Homo sapiens: one gene and its partners. The protein of the gene in region 1 binds, or shares a complex with, the protein of each later gene. Each region holds a gene or a part of one and is shown in the gene's direction. Other genes may lie near its edges.

Region 1 (7,669 bases):
TCTCGCTCTGTTGCCCAGGCTGGAGTGCAGTGGCGTGATCTTGGCTCACTGCAACCTCTGCCTCCCAGGTTCAAGTGATTTTCCTGCTTCAGCCTCCCAAGTAGCTGGGATTACAGGCACTCACCACCATGCCTGGCTAACTTTCTTTTGTATTTTTAGTAGAGGCGGGGTTTCACCATGTTGGCCAGGCTGGTCTCAAACTCCTGACCTCAGGTGATCCGCCCACCTTGGCCTTCCAAACTGCTGGGATTACAGGTGTGAGCCACTGCAGCCGGCCTTACTGTACTATTCTTATATAAGCTTTTCTGTAGGTTTGAAAATTTTCAAAATAAAAAGTAGGGAGGGGGTGAGCAAGGTGGCTTATCATCCTAGGACTTTGGGAGGTCGAAGCAGGAGGATCACTTGAGCCCAGAAGTCCCAGATGAGCCTGAACAACATAGTGAGACTCCATTTCTACAAAAACATAAATTAAAAAAATTAGCAATTAGCTAGGTGTGGTAGTGCGAGTCTGTAGTCCCAGGTACTCAGGAAGCTGAGGTGGGAAGATTGCTTGAGCCCAGAAGACTGAGGCTATAGTGACCCAAGATTGCGCCACTGAACTCCAGCCTGAGTGATCCAAAGAGCCTGTTTCTTTTTTCTTTTCCCTTTTTTTTTTTTGAGACGGAGTGTTGCTCTCTCGCCCAGGCTGGAGTGCAATGGTGCAGTCTCGGCTCACTGCAACCTCCGCCTCCTGGGTTCAAGTGATTCTCTTGCCTCAGCCTCCAGAGTAACTGGGATTACAGGGGTCCATCACCATGCCTGGCTAATGTTTATATTTTTAGTAGAGATGGGGTTTCACCATGTTGGCCAGGATGATCTCGAACTGCTGACCTCGTGAGTCGCCCACCTCGGCCTCCCAAAGTGCTGGGATTACAGGCGTGAGCCACTGCACCTGGCCCAAAGAGCCTGTTTCCAAAAAAAAAAAAAAAAAAAAACTTGGGGTGGGGTGGTGGGGGTACAAATAATGATATTTGATGCCTCAGCTGTTGGGGATAAGGGAGGTGAAGGATGCTCTGGAGCAAACAGTTGGAGTTTGAGTGTCTTTGGGAAAGACGCTTCCTGGCCTTCAGCTCCTGAGGAGCTGTGCTATCCCAGACCTTTTCTCCAGTTTCTTAACAATTCCAAGATCTCCTGATGTGCTTCCAGTAAATTCCCTTTTGTTTAAGTTAACCATAGTCAATTTCTGTCATTGCAACCAAGAATACTAAACATAAAGCTACCATGTATACAATATACACCACATAAGAAATTTATTCCACATCCTTTTAAGGTAATGAAATGAATATGTTTTGAAATTTTGGCAGGGTTGCTATGGTGTTCATGCCTACTAATTAAATGTGTCAAAAGTGAAACCCAGTGCACTTTCCAAAAAGTTTTCCATCTTTGCATATGAACTGAACACAGGGCTAATTTTTTTGCCCCAAACACAGGGCTAATTTTTATTGTGTGCTTCATGGTCAATCACCTCAAGTACACTTCAAGTATACTACACGAATAAAACTCATTGGAATTCAACTGCTGAGGGACACAGAGCAAGAACATGAACCACAGATCATACTTTGAATAAACTTGCCCCAGCTCTGATTAGGACTACATTTCACTTTCCATAAGAAAAAGTGAACTTGTATACAGGAAAATTAGGAGGTGGGAGAATGAGACCATGCCAGGGCATTATTCTTCAGAAAGGTTATTAAAGGAGAAAAGTAACATTTCAATGACCTGCTATGTACAGTGTATACAGTTGATGTCTCTGTTTTTTTTGTTTGTCTGTTTTGTTTTTTTGAGACAAAGTCTCACTTTTTCATCCAGGCTGGAGTGCAGTGGCATGATCATAGCTCATTGCAGCCTCGGCCTGCCAGGATCAAGTGATCCTCCTGCCTCAGCCTCCCAAGTAGCTGGGACCACAGGCACGTGTCACCACACGTGGCTAATTTTTAAAACTTATGTTAGAGACAGGGACTCCCTATGACATCTTGTTTAATCCTCACAACACCCCCTGACAAAGGTATTGTTTTCTCCACTCTACAGATGAGGAATCTGCAGGTGCAGGGGGGTTGAACCTAGATGGAGCCCAAAGCAATGTTTTTATCAAAATGCCATGTTGTCTGAGAGGGGATAATAAGGTATGAAGAGGCCTTCCGGGGAACTATGCTTCCCAGAATTACAGCAGAACATAAATGCCTAAGGCAAAACTTCCACTGATTTCCTCTTTCCCAGCTGAAACCATGGAGGGTATTGAAGACAAGAAAAAGAAGATTCCTGCTGTGCCAGAAACCCTTTAAAAATGTGAGGGAAGGCTGGGCACTGTGGTTCATGCCTGTAATCCCAGCACTTTGGGAGGCCGAGGCGGGTGGATCATGAGGTCAGGAGTTCGAGACCAGCCTGGCCAGCATGGTGAAACCCCGCCTCTACTAAAAATACAAAAATTAGCTGGGCATGGTGGTGCACGCCTGTAATCCCAGCTACTTGGGAGGCTGATGTACAAGAATCGCTTGAACCGGGGAGGCAGAGGTTTCAGTGAGCCAAGATTGCATCACTGCACTCCAGCCTGGGCAAAAGGGCAAGACTCTGTCTCAAAAAATAAAAATAAAACACATGAAGGAATTTCACAGAGCTAAAGGTCAAGTGCCTGAGAAAGAAGTTTGCCCATAAAATGCTTTGAAAAGAAAGGAGAAGGCCAGGCGCAGTGGCTCACGCCTGTAATCCCAGCACTTTGGGAGGCTGAGGCAGGTGAATCACCTGAGGTCAGGAGTTCAAGACCAGCCTGGACAACATGGTGAAACCCCATCTCTACCAAAAACGCAAAAATTAGCCGGGTGTGGTGGCAGACACCTGTAATCCCAGCTACTCAGGAGGCTGAGGCAGGAGAATCGCTTGAACCCAGGAGGCAGAGGTTGCAGTGAGCCGAGATGGCACCACTGCACTCCAGCCTGGGCAATGGAATGAGACTCCATCTCGAAAAAAAAGAAAAAGAAAAGCAAGGAGAAAGCTACATCTATGAAAAAGCTAGGCACTGTCAGATGTGGTGGCTAACCCCTGTAATCCCAGCACTTTGGGAGACCCAGGTAAGAGGATGGCTTGAGCCCAAGAGTTTGAGACCAGCCTGGGCAACAACATAAGACCCCATTTCTCCAAAATATTTTTAAAAAACGGGGGAGGAGAGGAGGTCAGGCATGGTGGTGCGTGCCTGTGGTCCCAGCAACCTCAGGTACTAGGGAGGCTGAGGTAGGAGGATTGCTGGAGCCCAGGAGGTCAAGGCTGCAGTGAGCCGTGACTGTGCCACTGCACGTAAGCCGGGACAATAGGACAAGATCCTGTCTCAAAAAAAAAAAAAACAAAGAAAGAAGGAAGGAAGGAAACATAATTTAAAAAATCAAGTCCAAAAAAAAGCAAGCAAGAAGTAAAAAAAAAAAGCTCAGCACTGTCACAAGAAATATATGGCAAGAAAAGCTGGCAATTTCTATATACCTGTGAAACCCAAATTGTCACTTGCCTTAAGGATCAAATGTATCAATGGTGTGAGCCCAAAACTCTGTTGCAACTTCTTCACTTTCCCCAGATCTTCAATGGCAGCTTTGTTAAACTCAACAAGGCTTCAGTTAACACGCTGAGGATTGTGGAACCATATATCACATGGAGTACCTGAACCTGAAATCAGTAAATGAACTGATCTACAAATTGGTTATGGCAAAATCAATAAACAAATTACCTTAACAGATAACGCTTTGATTGCTAGATTTCCTGATAAATATGGCATCATCTGACTGGAGAATCTGATTCATGAGATCTATGCTGTTGAAAAACTCAAGTTCCTGTGATCCTTCAAATTATCTTCTCCACGAGGGAGAATGAAGGACTACCTATTTTGTATTAATAAAAGGTATAAATGCCAGCAACAGAAAAGACTATATCAACAGGCTTATTAAACGGATAAACTGAAGCATCTAACATTATTTTTGTAATCTGGTCAGTTAATAGCCAGTCACTACTTTCAAACTGGAAAAAACAAAAACCAAAACAAAAATGTGACTGACTCCTTCAAGACCAAAATACACCACTTTTTGCCTAGACGGCACTTTGAAATAGAGGGCAATACCATCATATTTCACGCTTGCCTTTCTACTTTTTAATACAGGTGAACTTTTTCTCCTTAATAGGAAAGAACACCAAGTAAAGAACAAATAGCAGTTATGGAAAATAGTTGCAAAAACTGCAGGGGGCTACAGAACAAAGGACTGAGTGTAGGCAGAGAGATAGAGATCCCCGAGGTGTGGGGCAGAGCCCACGCATCTGAATTCCAAGAACAGGCGCTTTCTGACAGAGAATACCAGGAAATGACTTCACATTTTTCCAGACTATCAACATACTTCATTCTTCCCAGTAGGAGAACCCAGGGCCTGTTCCACGCCCACAGACTTTGGTCAGGCAAAGCGGCCGCAGGGCGTCTGGGCTAAACGCAACCAGGAACACATTGGCAAACTTTTGCGCCTGCGCCCACCGGGCGTGCACCTGTAGGCTGAAGTCGCGCATGCGCTAGATGGGAACGTTGTTTCTTCTCCCCTACCCCTTTTCTGTGGGTCTGTTTTAGGGACAGACTGCTTCCGGGTCGAAGGGCTTGCTTCCGGAGAGCGGGAAGGCTAAAACGCGGTAGCTAAACTGCAGCCAACTTTGGTTGTGTGTGGAAAAGGCTTTAGCCATGGACAGGTCAGTACTGATGGTGGCAGCTGAGCCCGAAGTCTTGCCCGTCTCGCCTGTTGGCGAAACGAAATAGGTGAAACTAGACTCCCAGAAGAAGCCAAGGAGGTCCCGGGTGCTTCCCCTAAGGCTCCTTCCCCATGCCGGGAAATTTGGCCACAAATGGGGAAAAAGCCGCTTGGCGTGCGTCGGGGTGGGGTACAGATCATAATAGTCCCTTACTTTCCCACTACGTTCTGCGATCTATTCGGCGCTTTGGGGCAGCAACACTGTTCGCTCCTGGGGTGGGCGGGGTAGGTAGCGCGGCGTTCGAAATGCTAAGTGACCAGCCTGAGATCACAAAGCCAGTCAGTGAAGATACTGGGATCTCAGCCCAGACTTTCTGATTACAAGTGCCAGCATCAGATTCTGAGTTCCCTCTATGATCTGGGTACTGTGCTAGCCGCCTACAACAAAGATCAGTTATTCAAGATCCTTCCCCTCGGGGAATTAGTTGTGTAATGGAGACAACCAAGCAGTGTAAAGTGGTAAGTGTTTGGGGGCGATTAAGTCTCCTTGTCACTGTAACTATCAGGAAGACCCCTCAAAGAAGGTAACTTTCTAGCTGGTCTTTGAATAATAAGAGTACATTATTCGTACTCCAAACATTGAGTACCTACTATGTGACTGCCATTGTTCTAAAGGCGTTGAATATATATTATTAGCTTATTTAATCTTCAGAACAAGAAAAATCCTATGAGATGGGTACTGTTATCCTTTTTTCATATATAACACTGAGACTAAAAGAGGTTAAGGAACTTGCTGAAAGTTCGGAAGCTAATAAATACAAGAACCAAATTGCCAACCTGCATCTGTGTGTCTCCAGCCTACCTGAGGCTCTTTGAGGAGTAAGTAGTTGTTGACCAGGTGCTCAAGGGGGCAAATGTAGGTCTTTGTAAAAGAAGCATATTCAGAGGTGCTAGGATATGAAAAAAAAGTACGTGTAGCTCAGTGGTCACATGCAGTATACGTTTAAAGTGATGTTTGTGGCTGAATAGAAGACTGAACCCCTAAACTGGGGTCACATTGTAAATATCATTTTAGGAAATTTTTACTTCTATAGACCAGAGAGCTATCTGAAGGTTTTTTTTTTTGTTTTTAATTTTAATTGTTAAACGTTTAAAATTGTTTCTATGTGGTTGTTTCCCATACTTTCCTGCTGAAGGAATATCTGAAGGTTTTAAGTGGAGGAAAAGCATATTAGATTCTTGTCTTAAACACAGGCCTTTTAGTCCGCACAATTTAGTTTCTAGACCTTTGAGTGAAACTGACAGGGAGTGTTGTGATGGGACAGGAGACCTCCTGGGTTGAAATAACTTGAAGGGTCATTTTGCTCCAATTTACCACAATTCTTTTACTTACCCTTCTATCTCACAAGCTCTGTTTGTTGTTGTTGTTGCAAGCTCTGTTTGTTGTTGTTGTTGTTTGTTTGTTTTTTAATAGTACCCATGGTTTAAAGCATTTTGGAGACTGCAGAAAATCTTTTAAGAGAGAATTCCTGCAGTTAGGTAACTCCTCAATCCAACAAGGGAAATAAGATTCACTTTCATGAAGCAATTATCTAAAACAGTGTTATAATATAGATTCCAAGTGTTGAAATAATTCCTTAGGAGAAAATAACATAGTGAGTACTAGAAAGTCAGAGAAGTCTTTGTGCAGGTAAGATTTGAGTAAGGCTTTGAAGAATAAGCAGGATTTGGAGCCAGGAGTGCGTTCTCAACAAAAGATCTAAGACTTGGCTACTAGAATGACTATACCTTAACTTACTCAGGGTCCTTTACTCCAACTGTGATGATAAAATTCTTTATAAATGCTATATTCTCGTTTCACTTATATAAGCTTGATTATACTACTTTAGGAGTGGCTTTGGAGAGATATCATCCCCTGTAATCCGGGAGGCAGAGGTGACACGGACTGCACGGAAACAGAGTGCTCAGAAAAGAGTTTTACGTATCCTTTGCGATTTAAGCATCATTATAAAAATTGTAACATGTTTGGAATCAGTGTTGTAGAATTTTCTTTTTATAAGAGTATTAAATGGTAGCTATAATAAAATCCTGTAGAAACTTTTTTTCACTCCACAGAGCTGTCATTTGGTAAATATAATGCAAAAATTTAATGAGATCGTATTTCCCTAAAAATAAAGATATTTCTTACTGCTGACAGCTTCTGCTGAGATTAGATTTCTTTTTATTATTTGAAAACTGACTAAAAACATTTAGTTCAGTGTGTAGTTATCTAAGACTGACATCTGATCATTTAAATGGCAGAAGCAATGAATTATTTACCCTTTGCATTGAAAAATGGTAGCCCTAAAATACTTGTTCTTGAAAAATGTATTCACATAATTTGTATAGTAAAAAGATGGTTAATTCTCATTTTAGTGATCTCTTTTCTACATGGAAAACTTTTCTTAACTCGTTGTACAGTTCAGGCATCTCAAGATGAAAATTTTGGTAATACTACACCAAGAAACCAGGTTATCCCTCGAACTCCTAGCTCATTTCGACAGCCTTGTAAGATTTTTTGCTTTTAAAGCATTTAATAATAACGGTAATTATAATAGCAACTAACATTTATTGTAACATAATTAGTATAGTATTTGGTTACGATATCAATAAGCACTAATAATAATGATTGCAGTTATTATTCGTTTGAACTCTTGCCATGTACAAGGTACTGTACTTTCCATAAACACACGGTAACTATGACATGGGTATTGTTGGCCCTGTTTTACCAAAACTGAAAGTGAGACTTAGAGAAGTTAACTAATATATACAATAAGTATGTAAATAGGCTGGATGCAGTGGCCCATGCCTATAATCTCAACACTTTGGGAGGCCAAGGTGGGTGGATCACTTAAGGCCAGGAGTTCAAGACTAGCTTGGCCAACATG
Region 2 (7,025 bases), on another chromosome or scaffold:
GGTAAAACTTTTTTAAAAATGTTTTTCCTCTGGACAAAAGCAAGTAAGCTTTAAATAACTGAGTACATCAGGGATTGGCAAACCTTTTCTGTAAAGGGCCAAAAGTAACTGTTTTAGGCTTTGGCGGCCATGTAGTCTTTACTGCAACTACTCTATTTCACCAATGGTATCATGAAACATCCCTAGAAAATACATAAATAAATGCGTATGGTTGCCTTCGAACAAAACTTCATTTATAAAAACTGGTTTGAGATCAGTTTCACTGGAGGGCTGTACTTTGCCAATCCCTGGATCAGATGGTTGTTTTGATCTTTTTTTAAAGTCAGATTTATTGAGCTATAATTTATATAGAGTAAAACTTACCCTCTTTAGTTTATAATTCCACAAGTTGTTTTTTTTTTCTTTTTTTTTTTAAGATGGGGTGTCACTCTATCGCCCAGGCTGGAGTGCAGTGGTGCGATCTCAGCTCACTGCAACCTCCACCTCCCGGGTTCAAGAGTTCTTCTGCCTCAGCCTCCCAAGTAGCTGGGACAACAGGCATGTGCCACCATGCCTGACTAATTTTTATAGAGATGGTTTTGCCACGTTGGCCAGGCTGGTCTTGAACTCCTGATCTGAGGTTATGTGCCCACCTTGGCCTCCCAAAGTGCTGGGATTACAGACGTGAGCCACCGCACCTGGCCCTAATTCTACAAATTTTGACAGATACACAATTTAGTCATTTAACCGTAACAATCAATACAGAACAGTTTTATAACCCCCCAAATTCCCTTGTGCTTTCTGTAATCGACCCCTCCATCCTCTAGCCCCTGGAGATCACTGATGTGGTTTCTGTCCCTATATTTTGCCTTTTGCTTAATGTCATAGAAATGGAACATACAGTGTAAAGCCTTTTGAGTCTGGTTTCTGTCACTTAGCATAATACACTTCAAATTCATTCAGTATTTTTTTTTTTTTTTTTTACTACTGAATAGTGTTCTTTTGTATGGATATACCACAGTTTGTTTATCTATTCAGCACTTGGAAGACATTGGGTTGTTTTCAGTTTTAGGCAATTATGAATAAAGCCACTACAGTCATTTGTACACAGGTTTTTGTGTGAACACAGTTATTGGTTTTCTGTTTCTGTTTTTAAATTTTCTCTTGGATAGGTGTCCACGAATGGGATTGCTAAGTTATATGGAAGCATATGTTTAATTTTATAGGAAACTCCTAAGTTGTTTTTTAGAGAGGCTTTACATCTTCCTTTTTTATTGATTAGTGATGGGCTGGTGATTTTGGCAGCAGCATGGCACTCAGCAGACAATCCATGTCTCATCTATTACTCTCTGATAACAATAGAAGATAATGGTTGCCAAATGTCAGATGCAGTTACTGTAGAAGTCACTCAATATAATCCACCTTTTCAGGTAAGATTTATATTGGTTAAATTACAAAGCAATAATATGTTGAGTATTTTTCTAACCATTTCAGGGTCTTATTTATTTATTGAAAGAGTTTTGCTCTGTCACCCAGGCTGGAGTGCAGTGGCTTGATCTCAGCTCACTGCAACCTCTGTCTCCCCTTCCAGGTTCAAGTGGTTCTCCTGCCTCAGCCTCCCGAGTGGCTGGGACTGTAGGCATGTGCCACCATGCCCAGCTAATTTTTATATTTTTAGCAGAGACAGGGTTTCACCATGTTGGCCAGGCTGGTCTCAAACTCCTGACCTCAAGTGATTCCCCCAGCTTGGCCTCCCAAAATATTGGGATTACAGGTGTGAGCCACCTTGCGTGGCCCATTTCAGGGTCAAATTTCGTGACAGATTTCATCTGCAGGGCTTGGAAATATTTTAAAATAGCTTGTTTCTAGACATTGTTGCATTTTCTTTGCCATCTCAGGCTTGTTCTTTTGCTTAGTTTTGACTAAAGAAAAATGAGAATGGAAGCAACTAGCAGAAAGCAGTTTGTTTCTTCTGCTCTAGATCTTTGGAGGGATTGTCATGTCTGTATTTAGGTAGAAAGAAGGTATTGATTAATTCCAGGGTGAAAGTAAGGAAGAAACCAAGCTGGGCATGATGAGTACATGCCTCTAGTCCCAGCTACTCAACAGGCCGAGGCAGGAAGATCACTTGAGCCCAGGAGTTTGAGGCTGTTGTGTACCATATTCACACCTGTGAATAACCACTGCATTCCAGCTTAGGCAACATAATGAGACTCCATCCTAAAAAAAGAAGAAAAAGAAAAAGGAAGGAAGAAAACTGGTAGGAATTAGGGTTTGGTTTAGAGCCTTGTATACTATAGAAAAATCCTCCTTTTTACCCAAAGGAAGATTATATTTGTATTCAGCAGTGTTCTGTAGTCATCAAAGTTCTTGTAAATGACTGGAAGACAGGCTTTCCAATTTTAAGTTCATTAATAGCAATTAAACATGTTTAATAACTGGTATTCATGAGGAAGAACCTGAACATCTATAAATTCATTTTATTTACTCTTACATAGTATCTAATTCTGTTAAATCCTTGTTTGTTTATTTTTTGAAGAGATAAAGTCTTGCTGTGTTGCTTGGACTGGAGTGCAGTGATATTCACAGGTCCATCAGAGTGCACGGTAGCCTCCAACTCCTGGTCTCAAGCAGTCCTCTCAGGTAGCTGGGATTACAGGTGTGCACCACCGTTCCTGGCTTAAATTCTTACTTTTTTTTTTTTTTTGATCCTTACTCTTAACATGACTTGTTTAATTGAATCCTGTAAGAAAATCTTTTGATTTGTTCTTTTATGCCAAACAGAAATAAACTTTATCATGTGTTCTGATTATGCAGTGTGGAAAACATGCTCAGTGTTAGAAAAAATTTCAGCCAGGGCAGAAGACTATAAAGAGAATTTGAGGATTAAAAAACAATTCTAGGACCTCGCATTTAATATTTCTGTAAAATTACTTCTTTAATAACAGCTTATCATTTTTAGCATATTCTAATTTTATTTAATGAGATTTATTTTTATTTCTCCCTCTGATTTTATATGTAAACAAATCAACTAAGTTTTCTTGTCATTAATATCTTGGCAGTAAGGTAAGAACAAAAATGTTTGTTTATCAGGGAATATTTATAAAAAATTGCCAATTCTTAATATAACGAATTTTAGTGCTTTCATTTTCTCCTTTGAATTTATCATAGGCTTCTAGTTATAGTCATCATCATGGAAATGTTTTCCAAATTTGTTAATTTTGGAAATTAACAATTTAGGCCAGGTGCGGTGGCTCACGCCTGTAATCCCAGCACTTTGGGAGGCTGAGGTGGGTGGATCACCTGAGGTCAGGAGTTCAAGACCAGCCTGGCCAACATGGTGAAACCCCATCTCTACTAAAGATACAAAAAAATTAGCCGGGCATGGTAGCATGCACCTGTAATCCCAGCTACTTAGGAGGCTGAGGCAGGAGAATTGTTTGAGCCTGGGAAGCAGAGGTTGCAGAGAGCCAAGATTGCACCACTACCCTCCAGCCTGGGCAACAGAGTGGGACTCTGTCTCAAAAAAAAAAAAAAAAAAAAAAATTAAAAAAGCAAATTATAAGCAAGTCAACAAAATATATGTCTAATTGATGTTTATAAACTTACTCTGTCATGTTTTGTTAATCATCTCATGGGTAGTGTTCAGATTTTTACAAAGAGAATTGGTGAAATATTTTTATGAAATAATGTACAAAAATGAATTTAAAAAATCATACAAATATTTTTGTTTTACTTCTTGTTAAATGTAATCTTAAATTTAACTTTCAGTCTGAAGACCTGATTTTGTGTCAGTTGACGGTCCCAAACTTTTCAAACCAGACTGCCTATCTGTATAACGAAAGTGCTGTCTATGTGTGCTCCACAGGAACTGGGAAATTTTCTCTTCCCCAGGAGAAAATTGTCTTTAATGCACAAGGTACAGTAGCAGTTTTAGAAAGCATGATTGGTGAGCTCATTAGTCATTCTGAGTGCTTTTTTTCTCTTTCCCTGAATGTCACTTCAAGCATGCTGCTTTCAAATGTTTCTGAGACATTTCATACCACAACTACAGCAGCTGAAGCCATAACCCTACTAAGAAACCAAAAGGGTACTAGAATTTCCAAACTATTATATTTACAGACAAAGATAGTAACATTTGTTCCAGGAGAAGATGCCAAGAAGCAAAAAACTATTGCCAAGAGAAGTAATTGCTTATTCCTAGTTAGTAAAAGTGACATATTCTGAGTTGATGCTTTAACTTTTCCACACCCCTAGATAAGAAGAGCTTCAGGTGCTGGACTTATGCAGGGGGGCTGGTCAGGATTGAAGAAGAACCAAGCAGATACTTAGCTGAAGGGGTTGGGCAGAGGACAGAGTGCAGGTAGGCAACAGCATGGAACCCAGGTTTTCTAGTCCCAGCACAAGAACCTTGACAGAGGGTGGGTAGGATGTTACTAAGGTGCCAGGTAGGCTTAGACCTTTTTTTTTTTTTTTTTTTTCCAGTCCCCATTGACTGATGTGGTAAGTTAAAGTCAGAATTAAGAGAACTCCACAGGATTGAAAAAGCTCTTCTTCTGAGTTTTGCAGAAGGAATAATTTTCTTTTTTGGCTTACTAGACTGACTGCTGTCTGGCAAGGCTAGTTTTTATTGTCCTTAAAGCTGAAAGACACAGAGCCTGCTTCTTCAGATAGCAACCGGTTCTTAGCATTTGATTCTGGGATGTAAAGGATGAGTTCGAAGTAGGACTAATGTTGTAAAGGAAAAAATGTGCTTAATATATCATCAAGATGATTTTCTGCTTAGGGTGGTAGCTTTTACATAGCATTTTGTTGTTATTGTTAGATGTATTTGACTCTGTTTTCCTTTCTTTTAGGAGATAGTGTTTTAGGTGCTGGTGCCTGTGGTGGTGTTCCTATCATTTTTTCTAGAAACAGTGGACTGGTGTCTATTACTTCAAGGGAAAATGTGTCTATATTGGCAGAAGACTTGGAAGGGTCTTTAGCATCTTCAGTTGCTGGACCAAACAGTGAGGTAATGTGATTCGATAAGAATTTGAAGTTTTTATGTTATTTATTTTTTAGAGATAGTGTCTCACGCTGTCACCCAGGCTAGAGTGCAGTGGCACAGTCGTAGTTCATTGCAGCCCCAAACTCCTGGCCTCAAGCAATCCTCCTGCCTCAGACTTCCCAGTAGGTGCCTGGCTAATTTTTTGTTTTTTGGTTTGGTTTGGTTTTTGAGACAGAGTCTCACTCTGTTGCCCAGGCTAGAGTGCAGTGGCATAATCATAGCTCACTGCAGCCTCACCTCAACCTCCCGGGATCAAGCAGTCCTCCCCTCTTAACTTCCTAAATAGCTGGGACTACAGACATGCGCCATCTCACCTGGCTAATTTTTTATTTTTTGTAGAGACAGGATCTCCTTATGTTGCCTAGGCTGGTCTCAAACTCCTGGGCTCAAGAATCCTCCCGCCTCGGCCTCCCAAAGTGCTGGGATTACTGGCGTGGAGCCACCATGCCCAGCCTAATTTTTAGTTTTATCAGATTATTTTATACAAATGGTCTCAAAACTGAGACAGTTTTCAAAGACGTAATGATGCAGACATTAGTTCTTTTTATCTTCCTCATCCCTTCTGTCCTCTTTGCCTGGAGCAACTACATTTAAGCCTTTTAGTGATTTATTCTGGTATTTTTCTCCATATATCTAAGTAATGTACATATATTCCTGTCTCCTGATGCATCTGTTGATTTTCTACTACAGAAAATGAGGTTTTGGGTTACCTTATACTCCTTCCTCTGCCTTTATCATTCTAACATAAATTTTTTTCATTGTAATGACAATGTAAATATTGTTTATGGTTTGCTGATCCCAAATACTGATTACATGTCCTTTATTATAGAACTTTGTGTGACTCTTGGAGTGTATAATGACCTCGTTTTGTATTTTCTCACTTTCCTTTCATATGTGACTTAATCTTTTTACACACTCCAGGAGTTCTGTAGAGTGCCCCTCAATGTAGTTTTTCCCAAAGTCAAGTCTCCAGAAACCTTCCATCTGCACAGCTGTCATCCCAGAACTTCCCTTTTCTATTGTCCTCAAATCCTCAGGACCTGTCCTCTGCACCATGCATAGGTGGCCTCATCTCCTGTCAGCGGGGCCATTTCCCATTCCTTCTGCTTTCTATCTTCCTTTGTTGTAGTTAGTATCACAGATATTTCCAAGGAGCTTGTATTTCTGTTTCTTTTTATTCTGGGATGATTTTTTGAGAGGAATAGCCAGGTAAAAATTACCAATTTTATTCTGTTGTCTTGAAACCTGAAATATCCTATCCATAAGATTTTTATCATTCTTTTACAGAAGACTAAAAATAATTAATACTGTTTGGGGTAATTTCCATTTGAATAGTGTATGAAATATATAGACTACCTCTGTAATTCAAATTAAAGTGATTAAGTGTAGTTTTAAAGGAAAGAAACAATTTTTAACTTTTTTTTCTTTTCACAAAAGGGATTAATACCTTGCATTTTGTATTTTGTAATTATACAAAATTATACAAAGTACAAAATACCTTGTATTTTGTAATTAATACGATTACAAAAAAGGATTAATATCTATTTTGTAATTGTATGGTTATTATAATACTGTTATACATTCTGAAGCAATTTTATAGTATTCCATTTCTTTAAAATTTTTCTAAACCGTTGTTTAAATTTGTAATCAACCATTATGCTTAGGTAGTATACACTGTGATGAGTCGTGTAAGAGCAAACCTATAAAAAGATTCTGTTAATTATGATGAAATGTCCAAATTATTTTACTTACAACATAATCCCTGAATTACCTGTACCTTTTCTGTATGACTTTGGTTGATCATTTGATGCTATTTATAGTGTTTCAATAAGTATATGAATAATTGGTATGGACCAAGCTTGTCCAACCCACAACCCATGGGCTGCATGCGGCCCAGGATGGCTTTGAATGCAGCCCAACACAAATTCGTAAACTTGCTTGAAACATAAATTTTTTTTTTTTTAACTCATCAGCTATCATTAATGTTAGTGTATTT
Region 3 (7,198 bases), on another chromosome or scaffold:
TTGGAGACCTGTATTTATCTTCAGTTCCTCGAAGTATCTTTTCAATGTGTGATATTTTTCTCCTCCTCCTCTTGTTCTCTCTTTCAGAAATTCTTATTAGTCAAATAATGAATTAGTCCTCCATTTTTTTCTCAAAATTCTCCATGTTTTTGTTTGAATACTGCAAGTTTTGTGATATTTTTTCAATTAAATCATCTTGCCAGTTTAATTTTTACATTCATGTTTATTTTCAACAGTCTTTTCTTATTCTCCAATGCTCCTTTTTCAGAGTATTCTGTTCTCTAATATTTTCTTGAGTACTTCTTAGGCAGCTTATTATTATTAATTTCTTATTATTTTATTTTGGTTCCTTAGCTGACTCAGAGTCTTCCTGAAATGGTTTTTAGTTTTATCTTTCATGCTGTTGATTTTCATATCTCTGATGGTTTTTCATTCTTCATTCATTTTAAAGACTCAGGCCACGTGCCGTAGCTCACGTTTGTAATCCCAGCACTTCAGGAGGCCAAGGCGCAAGGTGGGAGGTTGCTTGAGCCCAGGAGGTTGAGGTTGCAGTGAGCTATGATCTAAGGCCATGTCATTGCCCTCCAGCCTGGGCAACAGAGAGAACCCCCGTCTCTAAAAAAAGGAAAAAAAAAAGAGTGGAGTTCTAGATAGATGTAAAGAGACAAAACACTGGGGAGAGGAATCTGGAGGAACTGAAGTACAGTGGTTTCCTAAAGAGGTTTTAAATTGACATTTTGTTTTTAGCCCCCTTCTCATTTCCACCTTCTACTGTACAAGGGAACTCTATTCCTGGAGTCTCTCTGGGACTTTGCTAGGTAGATCAACTCTCTGTGAAACATAAGTCATCTCTGGAAAATTATAGGATGCCACTTCAGTGATCTGTTTCATTTGTCAACAAGTTTCCATATTTCTTTTGATCTTTCCAATAATTTTTTAAATACCTAGTCTGCTGATGGTCCCTCTCCAGGTCACTTCAGCTTTAGAAATTAATTTATTGGCTAGGCATGGGAGCTAATTCCTGTAATCTCAACACTCTGGGAGCCTGAGGCTGGAGGGTCACTTGAGACCAGGAGTTCTAGACCAGCCTGGGCAACACAGCAACACAGTGTAAAATTTAAAAAAAATTAGCTGAGCATGGTGGCATGCTTCTGTAGTCCTAACTTTTCAGGAGCTGAGGCGGGAGGATCCTTTGAGCCCAGGAGTTTGAGGTTACAGTGAGTTATGCCACTGCACTCCAGCGTGGGTGATAGAGGAACTCTTGATTTATTAAGGCTTTAGGAGGCAGACTAAACAAATATTTATGTCACTACCTTTTCAAAGCAGACATTTTTATTTACATTTGGCTGTCTCTGGAATTTCTGGTCTGATTACCATTGTACCAAATACATTTTAGTGTCCCATACAGCAATTTTTGTATTATTATTCTTTTTCACAGTTTAGTAAGTTATTTTTATAGAATTGTTGTTGAGATGGTCTTTGGAATACCTTTGTTCAATTCAAGAAAAATATGAGAATTTTGATTGCATCAAATTTAGGTTTAAAATATAATTAGTGTAACCACCTGTCTTATCTTTAGTAATAGATGATTAGACCCCAAGTTTCAGCAGAGCAGTTTTCCATCTAGAGATTTCTTGCCTCAACCTCCCGTGAAGCAAGAAGTGGTTGTCACTAGTTCTCACTAATTAAATATAATAAAAGTGATGCGTGTAAATTCCCTGTCACTCTCTTAAAAGGACACCCTATTGAAAACCTTTTAAAATCTGTTTGCCCAAATTATTTGCTTATAAAACGCACTCTGAGACCAAAAGCATCTCACAAAATCCTAGTGTTTCAGGAATGAGGTTTGAGAAACACTGGTGTTTAAGTATTCTGCCGATCATATTTAAAAAAGTATTTTCTAAACCCACTTTATATCCTAATAGAAAAGGTGTTACCTATTATTCAGTGCCTTTTTGACACTGAGATGATTTCCTTAACCTAACATTATAATTATTTAACACAGATTTATATTTTGAATTATCTTTGCACTTAACAAAAAAAAACTCAATTTAGTTATAGAGAAATGTTCCTTTAAGACAGTATCAAACTGACTTTGCTAACATCTAGGAATTTTGCACTTAAGTTCACAAATGAACATCAAACATGAGTCAGGCACTGGGGATACAATGGTGAGAAACATGCATAGCCTTCATCATCACTGAGCTTACACTGAGTGACTTTAAATGTTCTTTTAGGATGTGAAAGATTATGGCAGCTTCAAAAATTAAGCTAAGAAGCTCTCCATCATTTTCTATGACTTGAGTTTAAAGCACAAGATTTAGCTCTTATGATTTTTAATCATAAATCTGAGTGGGCTGGAGGCTTTTTATTTGTGAGTACAGAACTTTGGCATCTTTGTTCCAGTCCTGTCTGTAGTTATTGACTTAATTCAGTTTTCCACCTTTTTTGAGTTATGTTTTCCTTGAAAAGTGACTATTTCATTTTCTATTAATATTTATTGGCGGTATAAAATTGTATAAAATATTTTAATAATTTTTAAACCTCCCTTTTATTAAATTACCAACCTTACTAGTGGCACTATTCCTTTTCTTGTTACACTTCCTATAAGTCTTTGAATTTCACTGGTATTGCCAAAAACCAGCTTTATACTAGATTATGAGTACTTTATCAATTTTACCAATTTCCTTTTAAAACACTGTTCTCAAACTTTATCTTTACTAATTTCCTCTTCCTAATTTCAATTATACAATTTGTTCTTCGTTTCTAACATCTTCAAATAAATGCTTGGCCTATTTTTATTCTTTCTTATTTAAAATAATGTTCTCCTATAACTTGGTCTGTATCTTAAAATTTTAACATATAGTTTTTTTCAATATCATTATGTTCTAGTAACTACAATTTCTCTTTCCTTTTAGACTCAAAGGTGATTTATAAAGGTACTTTAAAATTTAAAATACGAACAAAATAAAAGTTCCACTTTTGTTTTTTAGGGGTGCTATCCCTTAGCTAATTTTTAGCTTATTCTATCATACTATCTTTCCTTGTGCAAATTTAGCCCATCCTTCTAGGTCTAACGTTTATGTCACCTCCTTTAAGAAGCATATCTTGTGTTCTCTCCCTTCTCTAAAATTTTATATACATCCCTTAAACATATAATGTTTATATATTCTCCGCCTTCAACTCCCATCCTCAGGCTATTTTATTCACGTTTATGAGATTTGCTGTTTAGCTCAGTATTTTGTGGATTTTCAAAAGATTCCACTCAATTTACCGAGCACCTACGCACCAGACATTTTATTAGGTACAAGGAAAAGCGTTAAATAGATATAATCACGGCCTCCAAGAAATTGAACCTAGTAAGAGACACGAATAAGCAGACATTCAAGTGAGCTTTAGGAGACTTGGTTTGGTAGTGAAGACAGTCTCATGTGTGTTAACAGCTTACAGCACTGAAAAATAAGAGACAGAAGGGAACAAATCCGTTTCAAACAGTTCAAAGGAGGAAAGAGAGGGAAAGGTGGTTTAGATACAGCTAAATCATAAATAGCCTGATAATCTAACCCTGTGATAATCCAAGTACAGCCACAGCACCTGCCTCAGAATCACTTGGAAGGCTTGTGAGGAGTAAAAACGCAGATTCATACCTACTGAAATTAGAATGGAGAAACGGACATTTAAGTCTGCATTTTAAACACATTCCCCAGGTACTGAGGCCATTCCAAGTTTTAGAACAGAGCACAGCCAATTTTCGCAGACCTTGTTCCTCAAGTACTCCCTCCTTCTAGCCGGAGGGTGGCCTGCAGCATGTCCCTTCCCTTCCCACCGCCGAAGCTGTCCATCCAGTTTCTGAATGGCGGCCCACAGACCGCACGGCTTTACGAGAGAGGAACACAGCGCCCACCCGCCAAACAGCCACACAGGGATCGGAGGCCGGACCCGCAAAGGATTCGGGGAAAAACGCATCGAGCCAATCCGAAGGGCGAGAGCGGCCCTAGATTGGGGGGGCGGGGGGGCGTTAGGAGGTGGGCGGGGCACAGAAAAAAAATTTTTTTTTCCTTGATTGACGTAAAACCTACCCAATGAAAATAGAACTGGTAAAGCTTCCGCCCCCTAATAGGCAGAACCATAGCGACATTTCAACCAATCCAGCTCAAAAGTGTCTATGTTGTGGGAGGTCCCTGAGGCCGCTGAGGTCGTTCGTGTCTGTTGAACGGCTGTGGGCGTCTTGCTGCCTTGGGTAGGGGGTTAAAATCGTTCTTGAGAGGAACGTCTCTGTGCGAAGAGATAATGAGTTTAGCTCTGAGGTCGGTAATAAGGAGGCGGCAGTGCTCTCCACACCCCGGAGCGGGGCCCAGGGAGGGTGTGTGTGGAAGGGAGGACGTTTGGGGCCGAGGCGAGGCAGGGGATGTAGTTTGGGACGCGGGAAAGGAGCCTAGGGCAGCCTGCCCGGATCACTCACCCTCTGGGCTCTGATGCCCTGCAGGGAACGAGACCAGTGCATTTCTGCTAAGGAGGTTATTTCTGTCAGCGCGTAGGGCTTTGGACTGCCAGAAGGTTGGGCTTAGTTGCGAGCGAGGTGGGAATGAAATATCGCGAGGCTTCTACTCTTGTTTCTCAGATCAGGTCGCGGACATCCCTTCATTCATCCGTGTGCCTGGTCAGGGCCCCACCTCGGCTGCTCCGCTGCTAATGCAATCACCCACCTATAAATTTTGGAAATAACAAAAACTCTTTCCTCTTCTCCCAGGGCCCTGCTTTACGGTGTAATTGGAGACCCATTTTAGTGACTTTAATTGGCAGTCTGTCTCTTGGATTTCCTAAATTTCTTGCATTTTTTTACCTTTCAGTTCTAACCTCTAACCCTCTGTTGCCCTCTCCCACTATGTAGACGTTGTACCGTAAAACTATCCATACACTTACGACACTCCGAAAATATTCCATGTTCTGCTAAGGGATAATCATGGTACCCTTGGATGGGGTCAGGGGTGGGTCGGTTCTGGACTTGGCCTCCAAAAGTCTCAGGAAGGAAAAGACTGACCCCAGGAATACCCAAGTTTGTGTCAAGTCAGGTCTCATGAAAGGAAGATCTTCCTCAGCTTTGTTATACTGCACCTACTAGTCACTTCCTAGCTTTTTTTTTTTTTTTTTGGAGCTTTCAGAGACCAAAACGACTTTCAAATGCAACTAGATAGGTGTTTTAAGTACAGTCAACTGGTTTGACATGTTAATGTGTTACCGGATTGTGTTTCAAAACTCGTTATTCCAGTGTTGCGGCTCCATTTGAAAATTTGGAGCACATTTAGATGGGCAGCTCTTAAGGAAAACATTTCTGGCTTTAAAATAATTTTTGCTTTTTTTCTTTAAGCGTTTCCAGAGTTTATGAGAAGTTAACCTCCGGTTTACATGTTAAATGAGACAAGACTCATCACATTTTTATATAGAATGAAGCACAAACATTGTATATTGGCATCTAATATTTGTCATATGTTTAGACTCATTAATATTTTCGATGGTTTGTTAATATCAATGGAGGAAATGACACATAAATTGCCAAACTGTTAAAAACGTGTAATCTAAAAACATTTTGAACCAACAGTGCTAAAATACTGTATAAGTTAATTCACTTTTTTTTTGTAATTTTATGAACATAATTATCAGAACTATCAACAGTAAACCGATATATAGTGATTGTCAGTTATGAATTTTGGTTTCATTTGGAGATTTTTTTTAAATTCTTTAACATTCTTGTAGGATAACGTGTTTTTGTTTTTTTGGTTGGAGTTGGTTGGAGTTTCAGACATAAAAGTAGTGTTGCTTATTCACAGTTCTTGTTTCTTCCACAGTAACATTAGTGGGAATAAATAAAAAGCTGGGAAAAAGAAAAGTTTGGTCCTCATTTCTTTTAATAATCTGTAACACTCTTTAGTTTTGCGAAGTTCAGATTTATAGCAATTTAGACTATGGAATAAACAGGTCATTGACTCATAAAGGGAAAGTTTCCCTATCTTTCTCCAAAGTACTTTCTTTTTTGAAATTTAGAAGGTAATTATTGGCTAATTTCTGTTAGTAAAGAGAATTAAAGTGGACTAAGGGCTTTTTCTTTCCATTTCATAGAAGTGAGCTTGTAGTGGACAAAACAAAGAGGAAAAAAAGAAGAGAACTGTCTGAGGAACAGAAACAAGAAATTAAAGATGCTTTTGAACTATTTGATACAGACAAAGATGAAGCAATAGATTATCATGAATTAAAGGTAATGGTATACTTTAAAATATTTGTTTCTGTGTTAAAATGATTTGCATTTTTACAGTTGCTTTACATTACATTTCTAAATAATTATTTTAACTAAATTGGTTTTGGAACTATGAAGGCATTTTAAGCATTCATAGTTAGATGCTGTAATAAAACTGAAGAGAACTCCTAACATAGTTTTTAGAAAATCTTTTTCACATGAGAAAACGAATAGTATTTTAAATGTAAAAATACATTCCCAGGGAAGGTGCTTATTTTTCACTGTCATAATTAAAGGATTTCAAACTGGAATTTATTCTTACCATCTTCTTTTCACTGTTTTTTGTTTTTGTTTTTGTTTCTTGGTGACTCATACTGTTTTCAGACTGTGGGAGTGTTGTCTTTTAATCTTATAATTTGGATTTGTTAGTAACATAGTCTCAATCCACTTTCTCTGGTGCAAACAACTTTAGTGCTGTTTGATGTTGACACATGCTAATAGGTAAAAATGTCAGCTTTAAGACCTAGAATGTCAAAGTGTAGGGAGAGATTTGTAAATTATTATTTGTCAGGGTATAAGGAGAGATTTGGGTTTAGGGTAGAATGGGACTTACTTTCAGCACAGTGGGAAAGATAGTATTTTGAGATTTTTAATGGCCTTAATGGATAGGTGAATGTAAGTGTTTATTTGGTAGTTTTAATTTTTGTAATTTCGTAAGGGATTTTTAAGCATTAGAATTCCAAGTAGGGATAGGAACTATGCAGTGACAGGATAGAATGTATAAAAGCAGTTAATAGGCCTGCTAAGTCTAGCTTTCTCAATCTTGCAGTCCTCTTTGGCTCTCTTTTCCCACTGTTTTTTTTGTTTTTTTTTTTTTTTGGTTACCCAGATTTGATCTTCCTTTATAATGTCTGTTCCATTTGTAACCATTGACTATCTTGGTTTGGGACCTTATTTCATACCTGG

What was found. Proteins that work in one complex are often made in the same cells at the same time.
Region 2: the proteins of NUP107 (region 1) and NUP133 are in contact, whole or in part, in a crystal structure (PDB 3CQG), measured with the Homo sapiens proteins. Residues at the interface, in NP_065134.1 of Homo sapiens: Leu875, Gln876, Ala878, Asp879, Val881, Ser882, Ser883, Glu884, Tyr889, Lys894, Leu897, Arg898, Leu900, Leu901, Gln902, Arg905, Ser908, Leu909, Leu912, Asp917, Pro918, Leu919, Tyr921; in NP_060700.2 of Homo sapiens: Trp937, Leu938, Ile941, Asn942, Gln944, Leu946, Tyr963, Ala965, Lys966, Lys968, Thr969, Leu970, Gly972, Leu973, Lys975, Leu976, Ala977, Leu979, Ala980, Ser981, Asp982, Ile992, Glu999.
Region 3: NUP107 (region 1) and CETN3 share a complex: the UniProt entries of both Homo sapiens proteins name them as parts of the nuclear pore complex.

The regions. Positions count from the first base shown.
Region 1 is NC_000012.12:68,682,331-68,689,999, forward strand, and holds the start of NUP107 (nuclear pore complex protein Nup107), read left to right. Parts: upstream 1-4,647; 5' UTR 4,648-4,735; coding exon 4,736-4,743; intron 4,744-6,631; coding exon 6,632-6,723; intron 6,724-7,202; coding exon 7,203-7,289; intron 7,290-7,669. UniProt on the Homo sapiens protein: Plays a role in the nuclear pore complex (NPC) assembly and/or maintenance. Required for the assembly of peripheral proteins into the NPC. May anchor NUP62 to the NPC. Involved in nephrogenesis.
Region 2 is NC_000001.11:229,484,339-229,491,363, reverse strand, and holds part of NUP133 (nuclear pore complex protein Nup133), read left to right. Parts: intron 1-1,261; coding exon 1,262-1,409; intron 1,410-3,750; coding exon 3,751-3,898; intron 3,899-4,835; coding exon 4,836-4,993; intron 4,994-7,025. UniProt on the Homo sapiens protein: Involved in poly(A)+ RNA transport. Involved in nephrogenesis.
Region 3 is NC_000005.10:90,406,754-90,413,951, reverse strand, and holds the start of CETN3 (centrin-3), read left to right. Parts: upstream 1-4,195; 5' UTR 4,196-4,290; coding exon 4,291-4,307; intron 4,308-6,117; coding exon 6,118-6,253; intron 6,254-7,198. UniProt on the Homo sapiens protein: Plays a fundamental role in microtubule-organizing center structure and function. As a component of the TREX-2 complex, involved in the export of mRNAs to the cytoplasm through the nuclear pores.